Homo sapiens: one gene and its partners. The protein of the gene in region 3 purifies or fractionates together with the protein of the main gene of each other region. This does not show direct contact. Each region holds a gene or a part of one and is shown on either strand. Other genes may lie near its edges. The genes, in order: EPB41L3, ZMYM3, MIDEAS, CLTA, EIF2AK2, SEC16A and EPB41L5.

Region 1 (3,500 bases), on a different chromosome or scaffold from region 3:
CTGTGAAAATGGGGGGATTTTGAGACTCATACTGCAGTTGAAAGAATCGCTGTCATATTATCTGCATTGGCATTGCTAGCATGGTGAAATTTCAGCCTGCCTTTACATTGTTTGAAAACTTCAATTTAGTCCTTTTCTGATTGTGTCTGAACACTGCTGCACTGCATGCCGTTGCTTCTGGGCTTGTTTCTGCCCTTACCAATGGCTGATGTCATGTGGGTGCTTTAAACTGCTCTGACACAATACAATGCGGGATCTGATTGACTGACCTCTCTGTGAGTAACAATGACTGTCTGGCAATGATGAGCAGAGGGTGGTGGGGACATTTCAGGATCTCCAGGGAGGAGATACCTTTGCAACTTTAGAAAGCTACCCAGGTGATGATGATACATCCCCTCCGGGGATGCACTCTTCCACCTCTCCTTGACTGTCATTTAAGTTGAAAACTACTCATCATCTGTCTTATATGTGATTTACCTTATTAAACCATAACTGATCAGAACCTTTAGCTTAGCCCTGATCTTTTACACAGCTGACGGGTTATATAAAATTGACTTCTGGCTGAGTCTTTCATCCCACGTAGAACTCAGTGGGTAGCAGAACGATTCCGGGTTGGGCTCAGACTGCTACATCCACATGGTGTTGTGCCTAACCCTGGGGCCCAGGTTGGACTCCCCAACACACAGAAACCTCAACATATTGGCACAGACAATAAATGAGGCTCTGAAAGTAGGACCACTATGGCAGCAGCCAGCTAACACTGTTTCGGACTCAAGCACGGAACACGAAGGGGAAGCGTGTTCTATGCCGAGGTACACACCTCTTCCTCTGAACTGTCACTCGGGTCATTGTCTAGGGAGGCGCTCAAGGAGGCCGCCTTGGGCTCCAGGTAGCAGAGGCACAGAGCCAGAGGGAAGGAGAGAGTGAGAGCGTATGGCACTGAGAAGGAGGCAGACAGCAGAAAGAAAAAGATGAAGAGGAAACAGGGCACAAGGGACGGTGAGCGGATCGGGAGGTAATGCTGCAAGCTCTGGGGCAGGAGGTTGGTTTCAGAAAGGTTGGGGAAAGAGAGGTATCCATCATCATCTAGGAGGGAGGGGAATGACTCAGGGAGCTGCAAGGAGAAGGAGAACAGGGTGGTCCCCTTGCCAGTTTGCTGTCTGTAGCTAAAAGCCACATCTTGATCCCCTAGGTAAGGCCTCCCTGGGCCATCAGAGTCCAAGGCGGGCTCTCCAGGCAGGTGCTCAGCTCTGGACGGCTCATAACCTGGCAGTTTGCAGTCATTCTCCTTACACCTCCTACGGAGCTCTGTGGGAGATGTGGGGGCACAATGGGTGGATGGGGGTGACAAGGGACATGAGTCAGTGCCAAGCCCAGGTGACTGATGTGAAAGAGACAGAAAGAGACAGAAAGCAGCAAACAGAGGTGCAAAAGGACAAAAAGAAAACTGCAATTAGTTAATTTTCTTATGGGTATCAATATAAAATTGTAAAACAAAAATTTTAGCACTAGGGTTGCTCATGAATGTTAAAGTATTCAAGCTGCATGCCACTGTTGCCACGAACGGCTACATTTCTCCCATGAGACTATCACATACAGGTGGAATTCTTTAAAAACTCAGAACAGAAGGTATTTGTGGGCAATCCCAAAGTCTACACATTTCACATGGTCAAAAAATTTCCCTTTAGACTAACAACTCTAGAAAGTTTCAGGTTTTGGGGAGCAAACATAAGTAAATCTGATAACTTAACATGAAGACTTTCAATAGCCTTCTCCTGATTTCCAGGTAGCAGAGCTGTTACTATAGTTCAGCTAGATTAAAAATGAAGATGAAATCCAATCCAGATTTTGATTAAAAAAAAAAAACCAATCTCTAGCATTAGTCCTTTCCCTGGTTATTCAATTACATCCAAAACAAGGAGTTTACATTCCAAATCAAGAAGTTTCTGGCCCCACTCCTATCTGATAAGTAGTTACAATCAGGGATTCGACAGTTAGCATTTCTGAATATCTCACTCCTCAGAAAAGAACTGAAGTTCCCTTGAAAGCTCTATTTTGGCTCCTTTATTTAGGATATTAGTGGAACTTCAACTGAAGTGATTTCAACAAGCTAACTAGCAAAAACAATGTGTTTTCTTGTAACATGCTTTGCCAGTATTTACTTTCTATTATTTATGATGCATAATAACAGAAAGATATAATTTCCCAGCCTTCTGATTTTTCTTAGCAGATAAAGGGCATATTTAGATCTTTGGTTTGAGTCCTTAATATAATGATAAAAGCAGGGTTTTCCACAGGTGCTCCCCTGGTGAGCTCAAGCTTTTATGGGGCAAGTGAATCTGCTTCTCCTCCTCTCTGGGTCCTGGAAGTCTCCACGACCAGGGCCAGTTTCCTCTGCAGGTGGCGGAGGGGTTGCTGGACAAGAAGGGGAGGAAGGAAAGCACGCAAGCCCCAAGCAGGACCTGGGCAGGTACAGCAGCTGCTGCAGGCCGGGAAATCCAAGCCTGAAAGTAATTAGACTTCTGCTGATGTCTGTGTCACTGCGTGTGTGTATGTGTGTGTTTTGCCCAGTGGCCTGACAGCATGGAAATTACCCAGCCTGCCTTGTGTGGTTATGCAATCCTGACTTGGGGAGAAGTGGTAAATATAGCGACAGAAAGAAAATGCACAAATAAAGTTACATCTGAGGCATGAGGGAAAGAAAATGCACAAATAAAATCGTAGCTCTTCGGCCTTTGAAGGGTCTCTTTTTACGATGAGAGAAGTATGTCTTTTCCCACACATTTGCATTTGACATTAAAGACGGCACTTTAAACAGGAACCTGCACAAATCTCATTCAACTAAGAATAATGTAGCTGCTACACATTAACTTCTGCATGAAGACAACTGTCCTCCAGCATGGAGGTGAGGCAGCCCCATGACCCAGGGGATCCCAGCCTGGGAAACGTGCCTCCTTCCCAGGCAACCTAGGGGACCAGCCTTTCAAGAACTATTTTCAGTAATACACTTTCATTTTGGTTGAAAAGTAAGTACCCTCTGCGTTACTTTTTGAAGAAGGAGAAGGATAAAATTAAGGTTTAACCTTCCATGCTGATTATTAAAGTCATTTCTAGAAGACAGCTTTGCACTGGGGAAACCAAGCCAGCCCACACCTATATGAGCACCAGATTTCAGCTACAGACTTCCTGAAGACATTCTGCCCAGAGTGCTGGCTTCTCAGAGACTCAGGCTATGAGGCTGGTAGTGTCCTTTGTCTTTTCCCACATCACAAATGGCACCAAGTGAGGACAGCTTAGTGCTACGTTTTATATAAACAAACTGGTGGTCTTTTAAAAGCAAATAAAGTGAAAATGTCCGGCCTTATCTTGGGAGCAAAACTAAAAATCACTTACATTGATGTGTCACTTCTTCAATACTTATACATCCATGGGAATCTTATGTTGGCATGGCGAGTTTATAAAATGTTAGAATAACTAAGAAGAAGAACCACATATTTGTT
Region 2 (3,500 bases), on a different chromosome or scaffold from region 3:
TAATCTACAACTCCTCCCCATCTTCACAGGGCATCCTTAAGGGATCACACCCTTATCACTTCTAGACATCTTCAGCTGAATCACAGGCCCAGCCCCTTCTCCCCTTTCCCCTCCTCCTCCCTGTCCCTGCCTCCCCACACCCCCCATCCCCAAGTACTTACGGCCAAAGCGCAGCTCATCACCCTTGCTGGTTTCTCCATTGGCATATTTTGACTGCACCCAGCACTTCCAAGCATTGACACCATATGAATAGTTGAGCCCGGTACAACTAGGCTGACTGCTCATGGAGTCCCGGGAGCAGCTTTCGGAAAGCACCAGCCGCTTTTGACCCTGGAGGGGAAGAGAAAGCAGGGGCATGGCAGAGGTAAGGCCAGAGGCAAGGTGAAAGCTAGTCAGCACCATATTTACTGCTGGCCGGGGCAGGGGCTGATGTAAGCACACAGCAAGCTTCCATAGCACAGAGCCCCAGGAACAGCTTTGATGACCTTGTGAGATGGGGGGAGAGCAAAGTTTGGCTTTATCTCAGTACTTCTAGTGTTGGAGAAAGGAGGTTAGGGAAGGTCAAACTATGGTTGCTGGCTTGGCTCTCGCATCATCTCCCCTTTGGGCCTCCATTCTTCTTTTGTACATACAGTAGCCCCAGCCCTACCTTCCTCATGGTTCGGGGAAGGTCTTGTTCAGTAGACACATCCTCAGGCCCTACCAGGCCACAATCAAAGAGGAAGTCTACACTGGGATTAATGTCCAGAGGATCTAATGAAAAGGAAAGAAAGAAGAAATCAATTTCTTAAGATCTCAACCCTGCAGCCCTCCTGCCCCACCCCTGCTACTTGCCCACTTGACACTAGATGAGCCAAAGGAACCAGTAAAGCTATACCAAAAAGCATGCTCAGAGGCACAGAAACGCAAAACACAGCAATGTGAACTACTGAACCGTAAACATGTTGAACATGGTAAAATTTTATGTTTTTTTTCAGCTTAAAAATTAAAAAAAAAAAAAAAAAAAAAAAAGCATGACTCAGAAGTCTAAAAGAGTGCACCTGTCCTGGTGTCTCTGGCACTGCTCCCTGTGAGAACCTTCCGTCTTAGAATCACAATGAACACTTTTCAGGGTCATGCTCAGGGACACAAGGGACACTCCCTTCCTGATGGCACAAATGCTACCATACTCAGTGGGCATGGCTCCAATCTTACTCACTCTTAGGGAAGTCTGCCTCCAAGTCTTGCCCAGGCTCATCCAAGACATTGGCCATCTTGACTGCCATGGCCAGGACATCATCTCGAGCAGGCCCAAACAGGTCACAGTCTTCCAGGAGTCCCTCTGCACTCTGGTTGCTCACAAGATCTGGGAAGCAGAGAAGTTGGCTCAGTGGTTACAAGCTCCTGCTAGCACCCTCACAAGCTTTCAGGGACTGATCCCAACTATCCTCCCATTCTACTAGGCACCAAGATCACCAATACCACCCCCTCGGGCAGAGACATGCTGGTAGCACCCTGTCTCCCTCGTCGCCACCATCTATGGCATACCACAAAGGTCAGATGAGGCCTTGTCTAACTCCTCAGCCTCTGCAATCATTTCTGCCATAGCCAGGATGTCGGCCTCCAAGGGGTTGGAAGGGATCTTCACCTTCAGCTCCTCAATGGTCTCTACAATCTTGTCTGTGCTCTCCAAGGTAGTGGGCAAGAACATGGGCACAGGCACCTGGAGGCACGAATCCCAACTAAATGCCAAGAACCACACCAGCAGTTGGGGGGAAGTTGGGGGGACAGATGATGAGTGAAGGGGGACAGTTGATGAGAGTAAGGGGAAAGGAGGACCCAGCCAGGAAGGGCAGGGAAACTCACCGGGATAGGCATCGAGAAAGGCACCGGGACTTTCTGGCAGTACAGATGCATAGGCACTGGCACGAAGATGGGCACTGGGATGGGCAGCACGATCACCTGTGGCTTCCACTCTTCTGTGGATAAGAAAGGGGTCTTCTCAGAGACCCTGCTGGACTGGTCACATCTGACCCACCAAAAGCTCTAACATGCTCAGTGTCACAAAACTGCCCTTGAATCAAAGGCTGAAAGACACCTCTATGATTCTAGGACAACCATATGAATGAGGCTTCAGCTACCTAAGAAATCCCCTTGTCCAGCTCACGGACATAGGGCTGGCAGGCCTAGGACTCTGGAATACAGCCTGTGGCATCGAGGTACCCTGGCTCACCTGTTTGACTTCCTTTGGACTTCATCTCCACCTTGCAGGAGACGCCCCGATTCTGCATCAGTGGCTTACACATGGCAGCCTTGTTTTTGCGGGGTGTTGCTGGGGGTGGTGGGGGTGGAGGGGTGGGAGCAGTGGGAGCTGATCGGGTCTTCACAGGGATCTGCAAAGACAGAGGAACATTTGTGCCACCAACCGCCGTACCCTCCTCTGAGATTATCCTCCCCCTTGGCTTTTGCCCCGACCTTGCCCAAATTCCCATTTTCCTCTGGGGTCCTCACTGTGTTGCTGTTCTCCACTTTGGTTTGAGAGGGTGTCTGGGGTTTTGACTCAGGAGACTGACCTGTAGATCAAAACAAATGAATGCTCTCATCCAAGGGACTAGCTCTCCATTTTCCTTACCCCTGTTCCAGGAGAGCTTCATTAACAGGTACACCAAATACAGATGGGAACTTCTAGGATTTGACCCCCTTGCCATCCCAGATCTAGTCTCCTCTATGCCCCAGCAATAGCAGCCTAAAAGATTATTTGTTCCTGGAGAATGAAACATTACATTTTCCCCCAAAACCCACATTTGAGACCTTCCACTTAGATAGCCTGAAGAGTCTGTTATCCCTGGAGTTGTGGAGGGGCAGGGGTAACATTCTAGAAATAGCAGTCTTCAGTCTCACTAAATGTAGAGTTTATGCTGAGATTTCCTTATCTCAGAAACGTAACCATAACCCCTATATGCTCCATCCTACCAGGAAAGGCACCCACTCCCTAACAATATATATTTCATAGACAATCAGTAGATGCTAACTCCAAGAAGCTTTAAATAAGACTCCCCCGGTACCTGCAGGGTTCGGAAGCTAAAAGAGAATACAGTTCACAGTACTAGCACCCTATCTGGCCAGGGGTGAGCTGAACGCAAGAGGAAGGAGAAAGGGGCTAGGCTTAGGATTAGGAGAGTCCAGGCTCCCTCTAACAGAGTGTACCCCCTGCCTGGGACTCACTGTTCAGGAGGCTCTCGGGCCCACTCTGGGTATCCAGGTTGGGTTGGTTCTGCTGGCTATAGAAACGCAGAAGACACTGCTGGTTGCAGAAATGACGGATCTGCCCACGCCAGTGGATGGTCTCCAGCAGCTTCCCCTGGCGCTTACACGCATGGCACCGGGCAGCCTGAGGATGTCAAAAGGATGGTCAGACCTGCCTCCCTAAAATGCGTTGGGCCCTTTCTTTCCCCCGGGATAAGCCATGCTCCTCCCCTTGGAGATCGGGCCAGCTTAGAGATGGAAGGCTGGCTGCCCTC
Region 3 (3,500 bases):
GCCTGGCCCTGCTGAACTCTGTGGTATATGGGCCTGAGCGGACCTCAGCAGCCATGCTGTCCCAGCAGGTGGCCTCAGTAAAGTGGCCCAACTCTGTGATGGCTCCAGGGCGGGGCCCGGAGCGTGGAGGAGGTGGGGGTGTCAGTGACAGCAGCTGGCAGCAGCAGCCAGGCCAGCCTCCACCCCATTCAACATGGAACTGCCACAGTCTGTCCCTCTACAGTGCAACCAAGGGGAGCCCGCATCCTGGAGTGGGAGTCCCGACTTACTATAACCACCCTGAGGCACTGAAGCGGGAGAAAGCGGGGGGCCCACAGCTGGACCGCTATGTGCGACCAATGATGCCACAGAAGGTGCAGCTGGAGGTAGGGCGGCCCCAGGCACCCCTGAATTCTTTCCACGCAGCCAAGAAACCCCCAAACCAGTCACTGCCCCTGCAACCCTTCCAGCTGGCATTCGGCCACCAGGTGAACCGGCAGGTCTTCCGGCAGGGCCCACCGCCCCCAAACCCGGTGGCTGCCTTCCCTCCACAGAAGCAGCAGCAGCAGCAGCAACCACAGCAGCAGCAGCAGCAGCAGCAGGCAGCCCTACCCCAGATGCCGCTCTTTGAGAACTTCTATTCCATGCCGCAGCAACCCTCGCAGCAACCCCAGGACTTTGGCCTGCAGCCAGCTGGGCCACTGGGACAGTCCCACCTGGCTCACCACAGCATGGCACCCTACCCCTTCCCCCCCAACCCAGATATGAACCCAGAACTGCGCAAGGCCCTTCTGCAGGACTCAGCCCCGCAGCCAGCGCTACCTCAGGTCCAGATCCCCTTCCCCCGCCGCTCCCGCCGCCTCTCTAAGGAGGGTATCCTGCCTCCCAGCGCCCTGGATGGGGCTGGCACCCAGCCTGGGCAGGAGGCCACTGGCAACCTGTTCCTACATCACTGGCCCCTGCAGCAGCCGCCACCTGGCTCCCTGGGGCAGCCCCATCCTGAAGCTCTGGGATTCCCGCTGGAGCTGAGGGAGTCGCAGCTACTGCCTGATGGGGAGAGACTAGCACCCAATGGCCGGGAGCGAGAGGCTCCTGCCATGGGCAGCGAGGAGGGCATGAGGGCAGTGAGCACAGGGGACTGTGGGCAGGTGCTACGGGGCGGAGTGATCCAGAGCACGCGACGGAGGCGCCGGGCATCCCAGGAGGCCAATTTGCTGACCCTGGCCCAGAAGGCTGTGGAGCTGGCCTCACTGCAGAATGCAAAGGTGAGAGTGGCATGCAGTGGAGCCACACCTGGCAGAGGGCATCAGGCTGATAGGTGGGCGGCTGCAGGATTTGCTTCTTGCCTAGGGAAAGCCAGACTTTGCCCTAGCCAGCTGCCTGTGGGAAAACAGTACAAAGACCACCCTTCACCTTGCCACAGGGTTCTTGCTTACTTTCTTTTGCAGAAATATTTTTTGAATAATTAGATACTATTTCAGATACAGATAGATACAGATCACCGGGTTCAAGTGATTCTCCAGCCTCAGCCTCCCCGAGTAGCTGGGATTACAGGCGCCTGCCACCATGCCTGGCTAATTTTTGTATTTTTAGTAGAGACAGGGTTTTACCATGTTGGTCAGGCTGGTCTCGAACTCCTGACCTCGTGATCTGCCTGCCTCAGCCCCCCAAAGTGCTAGGATTACAGGCGTGAGCCACCGTGTCCAGCCAGAAGCACTTTCTATAGAAGAGAACAGTGTGAGGCTAGGCGCAGTGGCTTATGCCTATAATCCCAGCACTTTGGGAGGCCAAGGTGGGTGGATCACTTGAGGTCAGGAGTTGGGAGACCAGCCTGGCCAACACAGCAAAACCCTATCTCTACCAAAAAACACAAAAATTAGCCAGGTGTGGTACTGCACGCCTGTAATCCCAGCTACTGGGGAGGCTGAGGTGGGAGAATCATTAGAACCTGGGAGGCAGAGGTTGCAGTGAACCAAGATTGTGCCACTGCACTACAACCTGGGTGACAGAGTGAGACCCCCTGTCTCCAAAAAAAAAAAAAAAAAAAAAAAGTGGTCGGAGAAAAGGTAGTCAGGGAAAAAGGTCAAGTTGTGAGACCACTGGGAGCCACTGTGGGTGTTTGAGTCCCGTGACTAAATGGGAATGAGGGTCCTAGATCAAATCAGAATTTATCTTTTATTTGTTTATTTATTTATTATTGAGACAGGGTCTCACTCTGTCACCCAGGCTGGAGTGCAGTGGTTCGATCTCGGCTCACCGCAGCCTTAACTTCCTGGGCTCAGGCAATCCTCCCACCTCTGCCTCCCAAGTAGCTGGGACCACAGGAGTTTGCCACCATGCCCAGCTAATTTTGTTTTATTTTCTGTAGAGACGAGGTGTCACTATGTTGCCCAGGCTGGTCTTGAACTTGTGGCGTCAAGTGATCCTTTAATCTTGTCCTCCCAAAGTGCAGGAATTATAGGCGTGAGCCACTGCGCCTGGCTATGACTTACCTTTTAAATTGCACTTCTGTTCCCATCTTGTCCAGGATGGCAGTGGTTCTGAAGAGAAGCGGAAAAGTGTATTGGCCTCAACTACCAAGTGTGGGGTGGAGTTTTCTGAGCCTTCCTTAGCCACCAAGCGAGCACGAGAAGACAGTGGGATGGTACCCCTCATCATCCCAGTGTCTGTGCCTGTGCGAACTGTGGACCCAACTGAGGCAGCCCAGGCTGGAGGTCTTGATGAGGACGGGAAGGGTCCTGAACAGAACCCTGCTGAGCACAAGCCATCAGTCATCGTCACCCGCAGGCGGTCCACCCGAATCCCCGGGACAGATGCTCAAGCTCAGGTATGAGAGGCGCCCCTTCTAAACACCTCCAGCGCGTGAGTGCTCAGGGGGCCCAGGACCCTATGGGGAAAGGAGAACATGGCAATGTAGGAAGGTATCAGGGAACCTGTGGAGATACTATTTTTATTTTCCAAACCAAACTTCTGGACAGACGTCCAGAAGGGGCATTTGGAGATGTCCCCCTCCTAATGGGGGATGAGACAGTTTTATACTTGAAATTGAAACTGCCTAGAATTGAATTCTAGGTTGTGTACATCTCTTTTTCCAGATCAGCAAATTCTGATTTGGCCCGTGCTGGGTGCTGGGAATGAGAGGTGTTTGCTTGTACTGTCACTACTGAGATCTTGACATCTTTTTTTTTTTTTCTGAGGCAGAGTCTTGCTCTGTCACCCAGGCTGGAGTGTAGTGGCGCAATCTCGGCTCACTGCAACCTCCGCCTCCTGGGTTCACACCATTCTCCTGCCTCAGCCTCCCGAGTAGCTGGGACTATAGGCGCCCACCACCGCGCCCAGCTAATTTTTTGTATTTTTAGTAGAGATGGGGTTTCACCATGTTAGCCAGGATGGTCTCGATCTCCTGACCTCGTGATCCGCCCACCTCAGCCTCCTAGAGTTTTGGGATTACAGGTGTGAGCCACCGCGCCTGGCCGACATCTCCTTCTAAGATTGAGGTTTTGCCTACTTTTTCTTTAGGT
Region 4 (3,500 bases), on a different chromosome or scaffold from region 3:
GAACAAGCAAGGACCAAAGCTGTTAGGACCTATTTTCATCTTCCTACAGCTCCACTGTCCAATATGGTAGCTACTAGCTACATGTGGCTACTTCAATGTAAATTTATTAAAATTAAAGAAAATTTAAAATTCAGTTTCTCAGTCACACTTGAATTGTGAAGCCACACTTCAAGTACTTAACAGTTACATGTGGTTAGTGGCTACCATACGAGACAGCACAGATACAGAATATTTCCACCAAAGAAATCACTAATGAATGGTGCTATAAAGGTTCAAATACTAAGTGCATTCTTTGTTCTGAAAGCCACCTAAATTGGACTAGAGAGATAAATGATTTGGCACTAATTGGCTGTGTCATCTGGGTCATGTCCCTTCCTATTTCTGGGTGTCAGTTATCCCATCTGAAAAATAAGGACTCATGTTTTCACTAGTTCAACAGTTCCCAAGAGGGAATAATACTGCTGACGTTGTGGTTACATAGGAGAATGTCATTATTTCTAGGAGGTGTACATTGAAATATTTAGACACAAAGTATATGATGTCTTTATCTTAAAGTAGGTCAGCCAAAACAATTTGTGTGTGTGTATGTCTAAAACATATCATTTATATAAAGATAATCCATTAATTACTGAATCTGGGGGTGCACATGTTTATTTTCCTCCTTTCAATTGTTCTGTAAAGTTGAGAAAAGATGAATCTTAAAGTCAGCTGATTAAAAAAAGAAAAAGAAAAAACAAAGAAAAGGCCACAATGTGGATTATATCCTCACACTCTGCATACTTCTCCAATCCACCATGTACAGACACAAGTCTCCCCTGATCATGAACCAACAGGTGACACTCCACGTACACATCTCTTTATCAAAGGCCAGGCTGTGTGGCTAGATGGCCACGCACATTAAATGTTTAGAAAGCAATGTGGCTGATGGGGATGGGTAGTGACTTTGAAGCAAGGCAGACTTCAGCTGAAATTGTGACTCTTACCATTCCTTAGCTGAGTATTCCAAATACTTATTCTACCTCTCCTCCACTTTTCTTACCTGTAAAATTGTAAAACTTACCTTACAGAGATATTAAGGTAGGAAAAACAAATTGTACATTTTTTCCTAACATACCTCATTTTCCTCGTGTTACTTTAAATTCATTTAGCCTTCAAATAAAAAATGGAGGCCGGGCGCGGTGGCTCACGCCTGTAATCCCAGCATTTTAGGAGGCCAAGGTGTGTGGATCACAAGGTCAGGAGATCGAGACCAACCTGGCTAACACGGTGAAACCCTGTCTCTACTAAAAATACAAAAAAAAAATGAGCGGGACGTAGTGGCGGGCGCCTGTAGACCCAGCTACTCAGGAGGCTGAGGGCAGGAGAATGGTGTGAACCCGGGAGGCAGAGCTTGCAATGAGCCGAGATCGCACCACTGCACTCCACCCTGGGTAACAGAGTGAGACTTCATCTCAAAAAAAAAAAAAGAAAAAAGAAAAAAGAAAAATGGACTGTTAAAGTCCACGGACATAGGAAACTTGAATCCTTCAAGTTTATAAAGCACTCTATAAACACCACCTGAGGCTACTCTTGAGGTCAGGAGCAGCATCACTATGCTCTTCCTGTGAGAGGATCTTGGGGATCTCCGGCTACCCTACTCCTCACACAATGGCCTGTGATTAGGCATCTCTGTGCAGGTAGCCTTGTAACCTTCAGGCTGAGAAGATATCTTCCCAAAGACCAGACAATGACACTGGTTAATGTGAGCTAAAAAGGAATAAAAGTAGAGTCCAGCTCAACTACTCCACTGAAAACAGACACCAAAACACAGAAGGGATTCCTTACCAAGGGCTTCCAAGCGTTCCATTTGTTCTTCTCTCCATTTACGGATACTTTCAGGCTCTGACTGCAATCGATCCACTTGTGAAATAGCTGCATAACTGTCTGTTGGACCATTACTTTCCTTAACACAAAACACAATTGTGCTATATTAATACCAAAAATTCCTTCCTAAAATGCACTTCACCTGAGTTAGAACCCCTGGTTCTGTTTTTTTTTTTTTTTTTTGAGACAGAGTTTTCACTCTTGTCGCCAAGGCTGGAGTGCAGTGGCACGATCTCGGCTCACTGCAACCTCCACCTCCCGGGTTCAAGCAATTCTCCTGCCTCAGCCTCCCGAGTAGCTGAGATTACAGGTGCCTGCGCCTGGCCTATGTGGTTGCTTTTTTTTTTTTTTTTTTCTGGGGTGGGGGAAGGGGGGACGGGACAGGGTCTTACTCTGTCACCCAGACTGGAGTGCAGTGGCGCAATCTTGGCCAACTGCAACCTCTACTCCCCGGGTTCAAGCAAATTCTCCTCTTGCCTCAGCCTCCCCAGTAGCTGGGATTACAGGCACATGCCACTACCGCCTGGTTAATTTTTGTATTTTTAGCAGAGACGGGTTTCACTGTGTTGGCCAGGCTGGTCTCGAACTCTTGACCTCAAATGATCCACCCACCCCAGCCTCCCAAAGTGCTGGAATTACAGGCGTGAGCCACCGTGCCCGGCCTGTGTTGTTGCTTTTAAGGTAATCCTTTAACATTTTACAAAAGCCGCCATTGTTGTTAGAAACGGGTTCTGCAGTGAGCCAAGGTTGCGGTGGCTCTGGCGGGGTGCGGTGGCTCACGCCTGTAATCCCAGCACTTTGGGAGGCCAAGGCGGGATGGTCACTTGAGCCCAGGAGTTCAAGACCTGCCTGGCCAACATGGCGAAACCCCATCTCTACTAAAAATACAAAAAATTAGCCGGGCGTGGTGGCATGCGCCTGTAATTCCAGCTACTCAGGAGGCTGAAGTGGATGAATCGCTTGAACCCAGAAGGTGGAGGTTGCAATGAGACAAGATCGTGCCACTGCACTCTAGCCTGGGCGACAGTGAGACTGTCTCAAAAAAAAAAAAAAAAAAAAAGACTCAAATAAATGTTAATCTTTACAAAATTATTCCATATGCCACTCACTGAACTAAGGAATATTAATATTACCAGGTTAACCTAATCAGACTATAAACAAAGATGGAAGGAGAATTATTTAAAGTATTAGTATTAACTTACTGCACTCAACACAGTATCATTTGAATGGTGATTTCTTTAGAATAAAGGTGATAACACTAGGGGCAGGTAAATAACATTTTTAAACAGTTCTCTTTTTATCAATGCTACCTCTCTTTAAATCTTTCCACTTTGGTAGATAACACACCAGCCAGTAATACATTCAGGAAAGTCAAAGGACTGGGGTTTCTTTCTAGGTCAGTCAATTAAAATCACAGGAAAGGAAGATTCTCAATCACTATCAATGAACAGAATCAGAGTACTCTGTACCTGGTAGTATTCACCATTCATTACTCCATCAACAGCATCTGCAAGACATAAGATTTTGGTCTATCAATAAGGACTGGTCAAACACTGGGCCAAAGGGTTGTACAGTAGAATACAGCATCATATGCTGTATGAACCTTGAGCTACTAAATGCTATCCCTGTGGTAGGTG
Region 5 (3,500 bases), on a different chromosome or scaffold from region 3:
AGGTTCAGGGTGCCTCCTTCTTTTCAATCTGATAATGGTCCTGAATTCATTTCTCAAATTACTCAAACACTTGCACAAGCCCTACGAATCACCTGGAAGCTACACATCCCCTATCAACCCCAGTCTTCAGGAAAGGTTGAAAAAATGAATGGCATTCTAAAAATCACCCGCACCAGGTACTCACTCCAAACACATAAAGACTGGGTTACACTTCTAGCTTTGGCCCTCCTAAAAATTCGGGCACTCTCACGTAAACCTTTAATGCTCATCCCCTTTGAACTCATGTATGGGAGTTTTGAGCATAAGTATTTGAACTCATGCTCCTTTTGTTCCACCTCAGGGTCAAGCCCCACCTCTAACAACCCCTCTCATTTCTCCTCTTCTGCATATCATCTGCCATTTCATTTGGGAATATGCTGACAAAATACAACTCCTTTAATCCCTTCCTACAGTCAGGAAACTGGGTTCTGGTAAAAGGTCCCAGCCCTACCCCCAATTCCCCCCTCACACCAAAATGGAAGGGGCCTTACCAGATCTTCCTCACTACACCCACAGCAGCAAAGCTCCAGGGACTCCCCAGCTGGTTTCATTATACTTCTCTCAAGAACACAGACTTCCCTTCACTACACATCCAAACAATCAAATCTAAACCACCTTCAGCCTCTCTTGTGTCTCCACAGGATCCACTTCCCTTCATCTCACATGAATGCCGGAGGAAAAGGAAGAGAAATTCACCTAAGCAGCTATGTCTCTTTCTCTCCCAAACTTTCATTGCTTCCTAACTAGCCTTGTTACAGACCTTCAGTGGTATCCTTATGAAACTCTCATTATACATCCTGATCAGCTCCTTACTATTCCACGGGATTTATGGCTTCAAGGAACCTTCCAGGACTTTATTCCTACCCAAACTTTTTCCTCCTTTTGTTGTTTCTTTCTATCTAAATTCCCTAATCACATCAACCTCACCGATACAACCACTCCTCACTGCTATCAAACTAGAACGTTCTATAAACCTTACACAACCCCTCTTGCTGCAAGCTAACTCTTCCTTTGCTCCAGAATGCTGGATGTGTTTATCGCTGTCTTCTTCAGCTTATACATCCCTTCCTACACCCCTTCATGACCTTTTAACAGAAAACGTAACCCTAATCTATAAACTCCAAAAAGGAGCTTCCTTTTTTGAAAGAGCTGACAGTCTGGTTGGCGATTATCCCACTTCCAAGGTCAATCAGGCCAACACATTATTTCAAACCTATTACAACTCCCTACAACGCCTTAAGCCACAAGGCCCTCCCATTGAAGGGCCCATAATTAAACACACCCCACTTTTACAACAAGCCTCACTTTGCTTTTCAGCCTCTGAGGGAAATTTCCGTGTAAGATCCTTAAACCTAACCAATGCAACCGCATTATCATTGTTAAACACCCTGCTGACCATCAAACTAACCGAGTTGACTACCAAGTATCACCTGAAACGAATGGAGCATTTCTGCAACCTGTTCGTTTTGCAGCCTCTCCCTCAACCAATGCCTCTGGCCTAATTTGTGCTGCCCCTAGCGCCCACCTTTATCCATGGCTCAACATCAATGCAATGGTGCAACATCAAATCGTATTAAATGTGTAAAAAATAACTCTTCCTATATCGCTACTATAGTGGGTGTCTCCTTGACCTCCTCCTTGACCACCTGGAGTAATGAACCATAGGAAAGAAAAAACACCCATCTTTAATTCACTTGTTTTCTTTCTGTATCTCCAACTGTATTTATGACAAAGGCTTATTTTTTGTGTGAGTGGCACCAACACATATCTTTGTCTCCCCACTAACTGGACTGGAACCTGTACCCTAGTTTATCTTTCTCCCTCCATTGGACTAATTCCTCCTAGCCAACCTTTGCCCATTCCATCCATCCAATACGTTAGGAAGAGGAGGGCCATCCACGTCATTCCTTTAATGGCTGCCTTGGATATAACCTCCAGACTTGGATTGGGAGCAGGCAGATTGGCCACTCCCTTAACATACTTTAAAGCTCTTTCCACAGAATTACAGGGTTCTTTAGAAGATATAGCCTGAAGCATTATAAGAGTCCAAGACAAACTAGACTCCTCGGCTGGAGTAGTCCTCCAAAACAGATGGGGACTAGATCTAATAATGGCTGAAAAAAGGGACCTCTGCCTCTCATTGGGTGAGGAATGTTGCTTTTATCTCAACCAATTGGGCCTAGTAAGAAACGCTGATGAAAAACTTAAAGAAAGGGCTAAAAAGCTAAGGGAGTATCAAAACAACCAACTAGATTCTTGGTTTGGGAACAAAATCATAATATGGGTCATCCCATTCCTGGGCCCCCTCTTAATGATAAGCCTAAGACTATTGTTCTTACCCTGCGTAGTTAATCTTATTCAAATATTTTTAACTGACAGGATCATGGCCATTTCACAGACAACTACCAAAAACATCCACCGACAGCATTACCCCTTCTTCTTTCTTCAGCACTTAAAATCTTACCTCTTGTCCACAGTATACTTTGTTTCTTTCATGTCAGGAAGGTCAAATCTGGGTGCCAAAGATCTAAAAATTAAGAGTTGAATGTAAAACTCAAATAAAATTGAAATCAAATATAACTTATTTAGTGTTAATGTTAACCTTTTTCTTTCTTTTTTTTTCTTCAGAGGCAAGGTCTCACCCCATCTCCCAGCCTGGAGTGCAGTGGTGTGATCATAGCTCACTACAACTTTGAAATTCTGGGCTCAGAGGAGATCCTCCCACCTCAGCCTCCCAGGTAGCTGGGATTACAGGCATGTGCCACCATACCTGGCTAATTCTTTTTATTTTTAGTAGAGACAGGGTCTCTTCATGTTACCCAGTCTGGTCTCGAACTCCTGGACCCAAGCCATCCTCCCACCTTGGCCTCCCAAAGTGCTGGGGATCACAGGCGCAAGCCACAGCACCCAGCCAACTTTTTTCTTTATAAAACTATATACTTACCGTTCTCCTCTGGCCTCTAATACTTTTTCATCCCTCCTCTGGTTCCTTTTTCCACCTTAGAGTGCTCATTGTTGATGCGTCACTAACCTCTCCTTTTCCTCCTCCAGACTCAAAACCTCAGGAAGTACATCTCCTTACACCCTCATCCTAGCTGTTATTCCTTACTGATGATAAGCCACCTGCAAATGGAAGTTTAAATACCACCTAAAACTAAACATATCCAAACTGCTGTCTTCTCTCTAAGCCCTTAACTCCTTAACTTCCTTAACACCATTAGTGCCATGGTTCTTGACTGCATCCTGTTCAAAGTGAAGCAATCTTCAAATCCTTTCTCCTTTACCTCTCCTTCATGCTTTCACTCAGCTACGGGGAACCTATTCCCTCAAGTCATGTCCACTCTTCCTTTACAGTCTTTCTCACACATTCTCCTCATCCCTCCTGACTGCCACAGTAATCGTGGCTGAGGGCACCTCATGTGCAGAACTCTCTTCTCTCCATCCAAGCATCCACATCAAGA
Region 6 (3,500 bases), on a different chromosome or scaffold from region 3:
GATACCAATTCAAACAATCTAAGTAGCCAAAAGCTTGTTAGCACTGAGTGCCTGCCCAGCCATGACAGCTGCAGGCTGGCAGCACCTGCTTACCTGGAAACTAGGCAGGGGGCAGGTCTCGGCACCCAGGGACTGGGCGTACTCATAGGCTTCCGTCCTCTGGATTGCTTCGTTGGTTGCGAACTTTAAGAATGGCAAACTGTAGAGGAAGTGAATTATTTTGATTTGGAAAAAATGGCCAATTATTGGCATAGTCAACCTTGGAGCAAATCATCCAGAAGTGTGTCCCACCACGTGACAAATAAAGACATGATTCTGGCCATTTCTGAATTCACTAAAGGAGAAGGATTTTGTTTTACTTTGAAAGGAAAACTTACAGGACTACACTGACTTGGTTCTTTACCTGTGATTGGATCCGATTAAGACAAGCTTTGTAGTTTTCTTCGTGTAAACACCAAATCCCGCCTGGGCCATGAGGTAGCAGAAGTGGGCCGCATCCAAGAGGCCCCTTGAAGCTGCGGAGAGACGACACGACACACGGCGGGGGCTCAGCGACCGGGAGCGCTTGCAGAAGTCAAGGACGCGCACAGAAGGCACCAGAGACGCCAGCCGGACCGAGAAGGCCGGGTTCTGGTGATTTCTGCCAACGCCACAGACAACCGGGCCTTCGGCGCTCCATCCGCGACACCCAATGCCCATCTCCACCCCTGACCTACCCAGAGTGTCGCCCATGGTAGCCATCGTCCTGGACTCGACGTCCATGTTGTTGTTCAAGTTGGACAAGACCATGGCGAGGTGCGGCCTCCAATCTCCCCATTTCTCGTCTCCACAGCACTAACATGAGGAAAAACAAAACGAAGCCTCATCCCCGGAAGCCAGCGCCATTTCAATTCCACACAGCTGGGCTCACCAGGCACCTCACGGCCTGTGACAGCGTCACCCACGAGCAAACTCCACACAGGCAGTGGAGCCTGTGCAAGCCACCAGGCAGTGCCACTCACCGTGGACGCGGCAGGCATCCGTCCGGACATGAGCTGGTAGACTGTCTGCAGAGGGTCGTTGATTGGGAGGCTGTTAGCAAACCTAGGCAGACATAAACACAGAAAGACCCCATGCTGGCTCAGCTAAAAGAAAAAAGCCGGCCGGACATGATGGCTCACGCCTGTAATCCCAGCACTTTGGGAGGCCAAAGTGGGCGGATCACCTGAGGTCAGAAGTTAAGAGACTAACATGGAGAAACCCCATCTCTACTAAAAATACAAAAATTAGCCGGGTGTGGTGGTGCACACCTATAATCCCAGCTACTCAGGAGACTGAGGCAGGAGAATCGCTTGAACCCAGGAGGCAGAGGTTGCAGTGAGCTGGGATCGTGCCACTGCACTCTAGCCTGGGTGACAGAGCAAGACTCTGTCTCAAAAAAATAAATAAATAAAATAGTAATAAAATAAATTTTTTAAAAAATCAGCCCTAAGCCCTCTGATGTAATGATTAGACTTATATTTCACTTAGGCAAAGTACACACATCTCAATATTTTATTTTTCTTTCTTATCTCAATATTAAAAAAAAAAAAAAAGCTGTAAAAGATAAGGCCAGGTATGGTGGCTCACGCCTGTAATCCCAGCACTTTCAGAAGGCCAAGGCGGGCAGATCCCTTGAGGCTAGGAGTTTTGAGACCGGCCTGGCCAACATGGCAAAACCCACCTCTACTAAAAATACAAAAAATTAGCTGGGTGTGGTGGTGGGTGCCTGTGGTCTCAACTACTTGGGAGGCCAAGGCGTGAGGATCACTTGAACCTGGGAGGCAGGGGTTGCGGTGAGCTGAGATCGCGCCCCTGCACTTCAGCCTGGGCAACAGAGCAAAACTCAAAATTTAAAAAAAGCTATAAAAGATGAAGACTGAGGAATTCACTGAGATTTTACATGAAGTACTAAAAACCATGCAGTTAATTAAAAACTTTTTAAGCTCTCCACAACACGACCCAAGGAAGCCTCGAGGCCAAGGAAGCCCGAGTTCGTGTGGGAGCACAGCACAGTCAAGTGAGATCCGCCTGCCGCCTGCCCCCAGGGTGCGGACGCCGCGTGCTACAGGGAGCCAGCAGGGCTCGCCACTGGACCAGGCCACTGTGGGACTGTACCTGGTCATGACTCGGGCGTGTGTCCGGCTGTCCATCTTACTTGCAAGTAGCAGAGCGTGACCCCACAGGCCATTCTTCATTGCAGACTCCAAAGCATCCTGCAAAAGGCATTTCAGGGACCTTGGTGGGTTATCGGCGGCGCTCACGTGACATGAGTCAAGACAGGCCATGTGTCCTCACGCAGCAGCAGATACACAAACAACCCAAAGGCCTCAAAAACACACTTATTCACCATTTGGAGACTAAAGACACGTAGCGATTCATTATTTTCCTGAGTTTCAAAGTCCCTGTGGTAGTGGGTATTTGTAGATATTTGCTGCTTTTATCCATTTTCAGCATAAAACACAAGCACGCTAATCACAAACAGGGCTAATCACGCAGCGCTGCCCACCACGCCGCCCCATCCACTGGGAAACACGCTCGAGTCAACTCCCCAGTTCTAACAGGAGGCCTCCGCGAATATCCTGTCAACACGGAGAGTGACTCCAGTAAGGCAGCCTCCCCTTTCACCAAAATCATCCAGGGCATAATTTAGAACTTCTGGCTGGGAGGCAAAAACGTTACAGTAGAGAAAGATGTTAATAAAAGCTAACAGGTTACATGACTTCAATCAGTTATAAAACATCCATAATAGACTCATACTGATCAGGCCGGGCGCGGTGGCTCATGCCTATAATCCCAGCACTTTGGGAGGCCAAGGTGGGCGGATTGCTTGAGCCCAGGAATTCGAGACCAGCCTGGCAACATGGTGAAACCCCGTCTCTACAAAAAAAAAAAAAAAGTTAGCCAGGCGTGGTGGCATGCAGCTGTAGTCCCAGCTACTCAGGAGGCTGAGATGGGAGGATCACTTGAACCCAGGAGGTCGAGGCCACATTAAGCTGTGATCACGCCACTGCACTCCAGCCTGGGCAAGAGTGAGACCCTGTCTCAAAAAAAATTAAAAATAAAAAAATAAAAATACTGGTCAAATATGCCCTTTCTGAGTTTATCATGATATAAAAGGACAGAAAACTCTCAGCCTATCCCATGTCTCTGCTGTTCAGGGCCACACATGCTTCTGAGACTGGCCTCTCTCCTGCTTAGCACATCCAAAGCAAACATCATGCACCCTAGACAGCCCCTCCTGTGCACATAGTGTCACTGCTGCAGTCACTATGGACCCCCCAACCCCACTGTCCCAGAGCAGGCTCCTGTCTCAGGCCCCCCACCTGCCCCAGTCCCCACGCTGCTGTGACCCCAGTCACTGGACGCTACACGCACTGGCTGCTCTCTTGCCCATGGCCTTTCCATGCACTGCGCCTCTGACAGGTTCAGTGTGCCCTCCCAACTCCCAATGACTTCTGGGCTGTGGACTCGAGTCTGAC
Region 7 (3,500 bases), on a different chromosome or scaffold from region 3:
ATCCAGAATCTACAAGGAACTTAAACAAATTTACAAGAAAAAAACAAACAACCCCATCAAAAAGTGGGTGAAGGATATGAATGGACACTTCTCAAAAAAAGACATTTATGCAGTCAACAAACATATGAAAAAAAGCTCATCATCACTGGCCATTAGAGAAATGCAAATCAAAATCACAATGAGATACCATCTCATGCCAGTTAGAATGGCCATCAATAAAGTCAGGAAACAACAGGTGCTGGAGAGGATGTGGAGAAATAGGAATGCTTTTACACTGTTAGTGGGAGTGTAAATTAGTTCAACCATTGTGGAAGACAGTGTGGCAATTCCTCAAGGATCTAGAACCAGAAATATCACCTGACTCAGCAATTCCATTACTGGGTATATACCCAAAGAATTATAAATCATCTTACTGTAAAGACACATGCACATGTATGATTACTGCAGCACTATTCACAATAGCAAAGACTTGGAACCAACCCAAATGCCCATCAATGATAGACTGGATAAAGAAAATGTGGCACATATACCCCATGGAATACTATGCAGCCATAAAAAGGATGAGTTCACGTCCTTTGCAGGGACACAGATGAAGCTGGAAACCATCATTCTCAGCAAACTAACACAGGAACAGAAAACCAAACACCACATGTTCTCACTCATAAGTGGGAGCTGAACAATGAGAACACACAGACACAGGGAGGAGAACATCACACACCAGGGCCTGTCGGGGGGTGGGGGGTTAGGGGAGGGATAGTATTAGGAGAAATACCTAATGTAGATGACGGGTTGATGTGTACAGCAAACCACGATGGCACGTGTATACCTATGTAATAAACCTGCACGTTCTGCACATGTATCCCAGAACTTAAAGTACAATTTAAAAAAAGGAAAAAAAATTGTTATCTATTGGTTAATTGACCAAACATTTCCCAATTTAAAACTTATAAGGGTTTTACATTAAAGCTATTTACCAATACTAAGCTCTTAAACAAGTTTACTGTCGTATTTTCAAAGAAAAAACTTAAAAATTAGATAGAAATTTCTACCTGATACCTTTGTCATTCACTGAAAGGCCTTCTCACCCTATTTAATTTTTTTTCTTTAAAGGAAGAAGACGGCTAACTATAATCACTAGTGACCCTTATCCTAGACCCTTATCGTAATGGGAAATGAGTATGTGCTTCATTCAATTTCTAAAATCAATTCTAAATCTTCTCCCAGAATCACAGTAGACTGGTTGAGAAAATAAATCTGAAAAGGGGAAATCATTTCTTCTTTTTTAGAAATTATTATTCTTCTGGACTATTTTTTCCTTTAGTGACAATTTAGTAAAACAGGCCAATGACCACTTTATATCCATGCACGTACCTAGAGTTAGGTTAATAAGTACGATTTCACCTACAGAATTGGAAAGACAGTTGTTCCTTTTTTTTGAGATGGAGTCTCGCACTGTCACCCGGGCTGGAGTGCAGTGGTGCGAATTCAGCTCGCTGCAACCTCTGCCTCCTGGGTTCAAGCGATTCTCCTGCCTCAGCCTCCCAAGTAGCTGGGATTACAGGCGTCCGCCACCACACCCAGCTATTTTGTATTTTTAGTAGAGACGGGGTTTCACTATGTTGGCCAGACTGGTCTCAAACTCCTGACCTTGTGATCCGCCCACCTCGGCCTCCCAAAGTGCTGCGATTACCGGCGTGAGCCACTGCACCTGGCCCAATTGTTCCTTTTTCTTTTTTTTTGAGACGGAGTCTTGCTGTCACCCAGACTGGAGTGCAGTGGCGCGATCTCAGCTCACTGCAATCTCCACCTCCCAGGTTCAAGTGATTCTCCTGCCTCAGCCTCCTGAGTAGCTGGGACTACAGGCGCATGCCACCACGCCCGGTTAATTTTTGTATTTTTAGTACAGATGGGTTTCACCATGTTGGCCAGGCTGGTCTCGAACTCCTGGCCTAAGGGTTCTGTCTGCCTCAGCCTCCCAAAGTGCTGGGATTACAGGCATAAGCCACTGCACCTGGCTGACAACTGTTCTTGTTTCACAAAAAGTCCAATCTATATCTCCAGCTGTTTCACTACAATTGTCCCCATGAGAGACCAGCTAGTTTATAAATTTGATCAAGCATCACATACACCCAGCTAAGCATACAAAGTTTAGGAAACCATTCCAGATCAGTAACTAGCCATTTGTTCCACCACTTTAAAAGCTAGTGTTGTTTCTCCTCCATACTGCACTGCGTTTTTAAAAACCTCTTTTTTTTTTTTTTACAAATTCTACTCTCCTACTATCAGCTTGTCCATCAACAACCCTGAAACTTCATACTTCAAACATTAGGTAATAAGAAATTTCTTTCCAGTCTCTTACACAGCAATCTCAGGCTTTTCACCACATATCCAATGATATTTTAATGAAATAGTAAACAAAACTCTTAAGATTCCTATCAAATAAGAAATGAGTATGAAAACTATCCTCACAAAATATCTCATGTTGGAATGTCTGATAAACCCTCAAGAAGCACTTACAGGAAGAAAATTTAGATGCTTTCAAGTTGTCCAGAATCAAAAACCCTAAAAATATACATTCTTATAGACAAAGATAACAAATACACGTAATGATGACTTCAAAACACTTCAAGAAATCCTGAGTCTTTGATTAATTTTATCATATTCTAATATTTTAAAATGTATAATGTACATATCTAATACATTCCAAATTATTAAGTTAATCAGAACATCCATTTAAACAAACTCTCCAATTCCTTATACTCTCACTTGGTGAGTTTAAGGTCTTCCCGAGCTTATTCAATTATGTATTACAGCAGCACGTAGGCTATCACTTTGCCCAAAGAGACTTTTTAAATTGAATTTTGGGTAGATGAGTGTGTACTAAAAAGTCTGTGGGGAGAAAAGACATTAAGGAATATCCTATGAAGCTCACATCAAATGATGTAATTTACCGTTAAGTCTTTGAATGCAGAACAAAGACATGAGAAAGAGATTTGGTATTAGCAAGCAACTCAGAAAAATATTCAACTGCCCAAAACCAAAAAGCCAACCTTTTCTTCCCCTCCTCCACCCAAAAAGTCCTGTAAAAAAATAAGCTAACCCCTTTCAAACATGTCAGATTGTTTCACACTGAGTTATGATTATATATTTCTGAAAAAAAAAAAATCTATCCAAAATGCAAATATAATTACAACAGCCTGTCTTGAGATAAAGACTACAGTGTATGAAAAACCTACAATGCAAAATACTTCAGGAGCAAAGAGACAGGCAGTCAGAGCTGAGGGGTATGAAGAAAGTCCTTTTTCTCACTTCACCTCATTAATGTCTGCAAGTAAACCAAATTGTGGGGAAATATTTATTTAGAAGAAAGTAAGGAGAGTTTTAAAAAATACAGAAGTGCATAGAAGCTAAAAGTCTTACAGTACACATTTAAGTGTTGTTATTCTCAAAGATTCACAACGTTTTAATAATGGTTCAACAAGGATTGTCAGAAATCCACT

Evidence for each region.
Region 1: the proteins of MIDEAS (region 3) and EPB41L3 purify together in Homo sapiens (affinity purification with mass spectrometry; one large-scale study listed by BioGRID and IntAct). This does not show direct contact.
Region 2: the proteins of MIDEAS (region 3) and ZMYM3 purify together in Homo sapiens (affinity purification with mass spectrometry; one large-scale study listed by BioGRID and IntAct). This does not show direct contact.
Region 4: the proteins of MIDEAS (region 3) and CLTA purify together in Homo sapiens (affinity purification with mass spectrometry; one large-scale study listed by BioGRID and IntAct). This does not show direct contact.
Region 5: the proteins of MIDEAS (region 3) and EIF2AK2 purify together in Homo sapiens (affinity purification with mass spectrometry; one large-scale study listed by BioGRID and IntAct). This does not show direct contact.
Region 6: the proteins of MIDEAS (region 3) and SEC16A purify together in Homo sapiens (affinity purification with mass spectrometry; one large-scale study listed by BioGRID and IntAct). This does not show direct contact.
Region 7: the proteins of MIDEAS (region 3) and EPB41L5 purify together in Homo sapiens (affinity purification with mass spectrometry; one large-scale study listed by BioGRID and IntAct). This does not show direct contact.

The regions. Positions count from the first base shown.
Region 1 is NC_000018.10:5,414,998-5,418,497, forward strand, and holds part of EPB41L3 (band 4.1-like protein 3), read right to left. Parts: intron 1,382-3,500; coding exon 821-1,381; intron 1-820. UniProt on the Homo sapiens protein: Tumor suppressor that inhibits cell proliferation and promotes apoptosis. Modulates the activity of protein arginine N-methyltransferases, including PRMT3 and PRMT5.
Region 2 is NC_000023.11:71,244,141-71,247,640, forward strand, and holds part of ZMYM3 (zinc finger MYM-type protein 3), read right to left. Parts: intron 3,371-3,500; coding exon 3,205-3,370; intron 2,553-3,204; coding exon 2,455-2,552; intron 2,373-2,454; coding exon 2,213-2,372; intron 1,959-2,212; coding exon 1,846-1,958; intron 1,703-1,845; coding exon 1,528-1,702; intron 1,346-1,527; coding exon 1,199-1,345; intron 754-1,198; coding exon 650-753; intron 331-649; coding exon 162-330; intron 1-161. UniProt on the Homo sapiens protein: Plays a role in the regulation of cell morphology and cytoskeletal organization.
Region 3 is NC_000014.9:73,736,304-73,739,803, reverse strand, and holds part of MIDEAS (mitotic deacetylase-associated SANT domain protein), read left to right. Parts: coding exon 1-1,244; intron 1,245-2,471; exon of another isoform or gene 2,472-2,506; coding exon 2,507-2,806; intron 2,807-3,500.
Region 4 is NC_000009.12:36,197,421-36,200,920, reverse strand, and holds part of CLTA (clathrin light chain A), read right to left. Parts: intron 3,371-3,500; coding exon 3,333-3,370; intron 1,943-3,332; coding exon 1,825-1,942; intron 1-1,824. UniProt on the Homo sapiens protein: Clathrin is the major protein of the polyhedral coat of coated pits and vesicles.
Region 5 is NC_000002.12:37,132,981-37,136,480, forward strand, and holds part of EIF2AK2 (interferon-induced, double-stranded RNA-activated protein kinase), read right to left. Parts: intron 2,567-3,500; coding exon 2,504-2,566; intron 1-2,503.
Region 6 is NC_000009.12:136,459,041-136,462,540, forward strand, and holds part of SEC16A (protein transport protein Sec16A), read right to left. Parts: intron 2,235-3,500; coding exon 2,137-2,234; intron 1,084-2,136; coding exon 1,002-1,083; intron 835-1,001; coding exon 717-834; intron 516-716; coding exon 404-515; intron 200-403; coding exon 94-199; intron 1-93. UniProt on the Homo sapiens protein: Acts as a molecular scaffold that plays a key role in the organization of the endoplasmic reticulum exit sites (ERES), also known as transitional endoplasmic reticulum (tER).
Region 7 is NC_000002.12:120,019,577-120,023,076, reverse strand, and holds part of EPB41L5 (band 4.1-like protein 5), read right to left. Parts: intron 1-3,500. UniProt on the Homo sapiens protein: Plays a role in the formation and organization of tight junctions during the establishment of polarity in epithelial cells.